Linked DNA regions of Homo sapiens: region 1 is linked to region 2. Evidence: fine-mapped expression QTL. A gene starts in region 2. The other region holds a variant in brackets. All regions are shown on one strand. Distances are from middle to middle.

What was found. PIP is the estimated chance that this variant, and not a neighbour inherited with it, causes the effect.
Region 1: its variant is the best candidate, but not a certain one, in a credible set for the expression of ANKEF1 in fibroblasts (GTEx, PIP 0.89).

The regions. Positions count from the first base shown.
Region 1 is chr20:10,073,892-10,076,812 of GRCh38, forward strand. All of the region lies in intron 3 of SNAP25-AS1 (SNAP25 antisense RNA 1), which reads right to left. Among named protein-coding and RNA genes, the nearest start is that of ANKEF1, 40 kb to the left of the region's middle. RefSeq lists an enhancer at 475-1,674. The variant C/G (reference allele first, on the strand shown) is at 1,487.
Region 2 is chr20:10,033,457-10,036,377 of GRCh38, forward strand. ANKEF1 (ankyrin repeat and EF-hand domain containing 1) reads left to right here and starts at 1,531. Exons shown (of 11, transcript NM_022096.6): 1 at 1,531-1,877; 2 at 2,123-2,186. The region is part of intron 3 of SNAP25-AS1 (SNAP25 antisense RNA 1); the gene reads right to left. RefSeq lists a silencer at 1,322-1,871.

The DNA of each region.
Region 1 (2,921 bases), 40 kb after region 2:
GAGGGCGTTTTCTTTTTTTTCTGTTGCAGCTATGCGAAGATATGCTTATGTATTAATTGTTTTTCTTGCTAACACTGTATAAGCAAATTCAACTAAATTGATATAAGATTTTGCATACAAGATTAGAAAACCTGATACCTAGAATTATTTTAACACACATTTTTCAAGTTTGCTTATGACTTCACTAGGTTAGAACTTCTTAAAAAGCAATGCTTTAAACATTTTATTCATTCAACCTTTATTGAAAGCCAACATTGTGTTGCTGGATATGCAAAAATAAATCATGTATAGTGAGCTATTAAAAATTTTTATCAACTTACAAACTGAGTACAGGTACCTACTCTCACTGTAAAGCCTTAGCAAAAAAAACTGATTAAAATAATGCATAATAGTACATAAAAAATTAAAATCTTCCATTAGAGGAACAAAAATTATGAAGAATTTCTAGGAGATAGAAAATAATTATGTACAGAGAAGATAATTCAAAATACATGTTGGAGAAAATTACTCTTTCAAAAGTCAGACATGTCCAGAGAAACTGGAAGGGAGGAAGATAGAACTGATGGGAAACATGGCAGAGGGGGACACCCCCATCATGTGATGGCAAGAAATGCTGTTTCCACCTGAATGAATTCCCAAAATCTAAAAAACAGGAAAGTGAGATCTGAGCTGTATTCATAATTCTTTAACGTTTTCAGTATTCTCTCCAGCACTGCTTACTGAACTTGTTCAGGAGTGAAGCCACGTGTCCCCTGGGAGTGTGCTGCACTGGCAAGAAGAAATGGATGACTCACAATTTTGACAGTGACTCTATAGAAAGAAAAAAAATCTGTGACTCAGGGCCTTGGGGAGAAGTCATCTCTTCAAAAACTCATCTGATTTTTTTTCATGCCATGTAATTACTCAGAGAACATTAAGAGTCTAAAAAATTTCAACACTGGTGTCTAAGAGATATGGAATTACCTTTTGCCTGAGATGCTGGAAGCAGTGGGGGCAAGTTTGTAACTAGAAAGATTTGAGCAAGTCCAGGCTCAGGTATCCAAATTGCCCTCTTTGCTGTTGGCATAGGGGATTGAGATTTTCTGGGTCTTAAATAAGGTTTTATTTTTATCTAAGGAACTATAGTTTCTATGCAAATCCGAGGGGGCTTAGAGAAACCTAGCGTGGAAAAAAGAAACTGTCAAAGCAGTGTTTGGGGAAATGAGATGGGGAAATTTCACGAATAGTGGGCATAGAGAAACTGACTAGACAAGAGAACGTGAACATTATAATGATATCAAATGGAAAATTTGAAAGTTTATTTTGAAGGAGATGGCTAAAAACAATTTTATTCTGAATGAGAATGTGATTGCCAAGAATCAGTCTTCAAGCAATCCAGGATTTAAATTTCCTTGTTCTAGGCTCAGAATTTAAATAGGCAAAATGCAGGAGTTCGAGGCTGTATGAGCTATGATCATGCCTCTGCACTCCAGCATGGGTACAACAG[C/G]GAGACTGTATCTAAAAGAATAAAAATAAATAAAATAAAAAATAAATGGGCAACAGGAAAGACTTTAAGACCACTCTCCCCTCGCTGTTCACATGGCTGGGTTCTTCCCATTATCCAGGTTTCAATTTTAAGATCACATCCTTACGTATAGTTTTCACTGAATACTTAGCAATTTGATCAGCAATTTGATCTTATATAACACATTGAAATGCAACACGTGTGTTTCAAAGTCAAGTGATTAGAAGACTGTGGGCCCTAACTGCTGTTTATGGAAGTATGCATCCAAAGCAGATGCTGTCAGAGGTCCCATGTACACCCAATTCCATTAACAGTCTCTTCTGATTCTTTTTCTCACTGACAGCCTCTCAGCAAGTACTGGTGCTCTCCCTGAGGATTTTCTCTGGCTGCAGGAGCGTGTTTCAGCGTGCAGGGCAGACTGGAAGAATCTGTGAGTTGATGCCTCAGGAAGCAGCCCTCAACAGACATCAGACAGGAAATGCTGGATAAATATCCCAACTTCTCACCTCTTGGGTAGGACAACATTGAGGAATGTCCTGCAAAGTCTCCCTAGAGTCCCAAAGGGCCTGAGCCCCAGTTACCCACAGCAGCAATTCTGCACATTAGCACACTCCTTTAGTAATTTTCCTCCTTTCCTGTCTTATTTCCTCACTCCTGTCCATTGTTTCCTGGGATCACTCCCGAAGCAAATCACTTGCACTCACATCCACATCTCTACTTCTGGGGAGTCCCAAACTCACAAGACATTTTTCTACAAAGGAAAATCAAATATAAAAGAAAGTAGAGTAAGAAGAGTTGGGACCAACAATGACTGATGATTAAGCAGCAAGAATAGCGGCAATTAAAAACTGTAGATAACACTATGGATGCACTGATGACACAGTGTCTTGGCCAAGCCCTGTGGGAATTCATACTGTTTGCCTGTGTGCAGCAGCGGTGCAAGTTTTGCAGTGTTGTGAAATATTTAGTGGACGCTGACTTTCACAGAATCCTGAATTACTGTTCTCAATAAGCTCCAGTATTGTGCTATTTCAAATGTAGAAATACCAAAGTTTACTAATTGTGAGCTCTTAATATAGTAACTTACTAGCAGGTTATATAATGAAATGATATCATATGGCATATCATTTCCCATAATAAAGAAAAAGCTCTCAGTGTTCTACCAGTTTGGGCCCTTAAGACTCCTGATAGGCAGGTAGATGCTGGACCACACTCTCTTCCTGCACTAAATAGAGGTTGCAGACACTGGGTAAAACCCCAAGAACCACAAGCAGATGCCCACTGCTTTCCTGGCAGCCTGACCCTTGCACCAAAAATACTTTAAACAATAAGTTCCCAGTTCTTAAAAGAGCAAACATACCTTTAAAGGAAAAAGAAAAAATACACAAAAGTCTTACCGACCTTGGGTTTAATATTT
Region 2 (2,921 bases):
CACATTTTTATAAATTCTCAAAATATGCAATATTAAACATGCATTATTTAGGGAGGCATTCAATGTAGCAATGCATTTTTAAGAGGCTGGGATGATAAATGTAAAATTCAGAACAGGTATTATCTCTGGGAACAGGAAGAGGAGGATGCAGTGTTGGGAAGAAATACATATAAGTACAGCAGTAGAGGCAGACTTTTTTTTCCTTTTCCTTTTTCCTTTATTTTTCCTAGCTTTCTTTTTCTTTAGCTATGGTATTTCTTTAGCTATGGTATGGTATGGTATGTACTTTCCATATATCATACAGTATATTTTGGTGTGCATGAAATAGTCCTTAATAACATTTTTATTATTTTTTATTTGACGTTTAAGTTCAGGGGTACATGTGCAGATTTGTTATATAGGTAAACTTGTGTCATGTGGTTTTGTTGCACAAATTATTTTCTCACCCAGGTATTAAGATTAGTACCCATTAGTTATTTCTCTTGATCCTCTCCCTCCTCCCACTCTCCACCTTCTACCCTCCAATAGGCCCCAGTGTGTGCTGTTCCCCTCTATGTGTCCATGTGTTCTCATCACTTAGCTCTCACTCATAAGTGAGAACATGCAGTATTGGGTTTTCTGTTTCTGCGTTAGCTTGCCAAGGATAATTGCCTCCAGCTCCATATTCCTGCAAAAGACATAATTTTGTTCCTTTATATGGTTGCATAGTATTCCATGGTGTATATGTACCGCATTATCTTTAGCCAGTCTATCATTGATGAGCACTTAGGTTGATTCCATGTCTTCGCTCTTAACATTTTTAAACAGTCTCTGAGTAGAATAGGGTAGGCTGGTGTAAGGAATTACTGTTTTTAATTGGAAGCAATTACATACTGCATTAAAAAGCATATATATATAGACACACATATATATGTTTTACATTCACATAATCAAACCAAAGCTTTCAGAATTTTCCGCCAAAAAGCATGTGTGGAGGGAGAGAGAGGGGTGTTATGGTGCATTTGTAGGCCCTGAAATAAAGTGATCTCCATATTTGCTTCCATTTGTGTATAAATATTTTTTAAGCATATATGCATCCTAGAGTATGGAAAGAAAATTTCTGGGAAGATTTGCAAGAATCTGTGGCAGTTGAGAGTAGGTTCACTTTCGCTTTATTGTGTAATTTATTGTATTTTTCATTTAATTGTACTTTGTAAACTAAATATTTATTGTATATTTTACTTCATTTTTTAATTGCCATATGCAGCTTTAATTTTATAACTAAATTACGTTCTGACCCAGGGCAGGAGGTGGGAGAAGAGAATGAGAGAAGGGCGGAATCCTCAAGACAGCAGCATTCTGCGCTCCGCCCTGGAACACCCAGCGCAGCTACCCCATCCCGCCCAGGCCGGCCACCTGGCGTCGAAGCCAGGCGCGAGGGGCGGAGGCGGAGGCGGGGGCGGGGGCGGAGGCGGAGGCGGAGGCGGAGGCGGAGGCGGAGGCGGAGGCGGAGGCGGAGGCGAGCACCGCCCCACCGCGCACGCTGCGGTTGCCCCGGCAGCCGCGCCCTGCGTGGCGGAAGCTCACAATCAGCCCGGTCCCTCCGGCTTCCACCCCGCCCCCTGCGCTCACCTGCCCGCGCGCTCGCCTTCCGGGGACCCGGGGCCCATGGACACATACACCCAGCCCTGCTGTCCCGCGCGCCAGCTCACCAGCCCTACCCAAGGGACATCATTCACGCCTGGGCGCCTCCGCCGGGCTCCGGGAGCCCAAGGTCGCGGCTGGGCCAGCGCTGAGCGTCAGAGGACGAGAGCAGGGGCCTCCCCGGTCGCCCCAGCAGGCCCAGGCACATAGGTGCCCAGAGATCCCTGGCTTCTGATCGCCCGGAAGACTAAGAGGTGAGCATGACACATGGCTTTTCCTTTGACGTTACATCTCTACCCCCTCCACTCCTCTCTTCTCCAGATTTTTCTGGAGACTAAAAAGTGGAAAGCACAGTAGAGAACCCCCAACATGTAAACTATCGCTTACACTTGTGGGTGAGCTGAAACCCGCAAAAGTTTGGTGTATTCATAAGGAGCCTATATTGAAGGACTTTGCTAAATGTTTTACAAGGATCATATCTCATTTCCTTTTCACACAGTCCCATGAAGTGGGCACCATTGCTATTGCCAGTTCACAGATGCAGAAACTGAGGTAAAAACTAGGTAGGTAGCATATCCATATTTATATCCAACTAGTTTGTGTAAATAATGATACAGGGAAGGGAGGATCACAACGGATTTCCCCACCTCAAACCCTACATTCCACTGTACCAAGCTTGTCTTCCTCCATTCCTCTTTCTAATGATCCTTCCTTGTCGCACAGCCCCCCTTTGAGAGTTAAATGACCTGAACACACACAGATTCCCACAGATTTTCATGTAATTTCCGAGTATTCAGACCCCGAACATGGACCTCAAGTCAAGACATTCTGCTCTATTCCACTACCTTGGTAGATGGTTAGATGTGACTAAGGTGGCCCAGGGTCATGCTGGGGAAAAGTACAGGTGTGCTTGTATGTGGAGGATCCTATATGCTGCTCAATTTACAAGGAACCCAGGACCCAAGGGCTACACTTGTGTGATTTCCTGCAGTGGGGTGAGCTCTTGGTCAGTCTTAGCAGTTGATTGTGAAGGACACTATACAGGGTGCTGCCCTCTCCCCAGCACTTCAGGGCTTTAGCTGGGAGGGAGGCAGTCCACAGGAAACCGACCCATGGACCTACTGAATTCATCACTGTAGCTGCTAATTAATTCTCCGTTAGAGATGGGTGCTAACAGAGGCAACATTGAAGTCCCTGATTGGGAAATCCTTATTTTCACAAATCAAGTGGCATTGATTCAGTCTAATCATTACCTATGTAGGAGCATCTTGCCCTATTCCATAGATGACACATATACA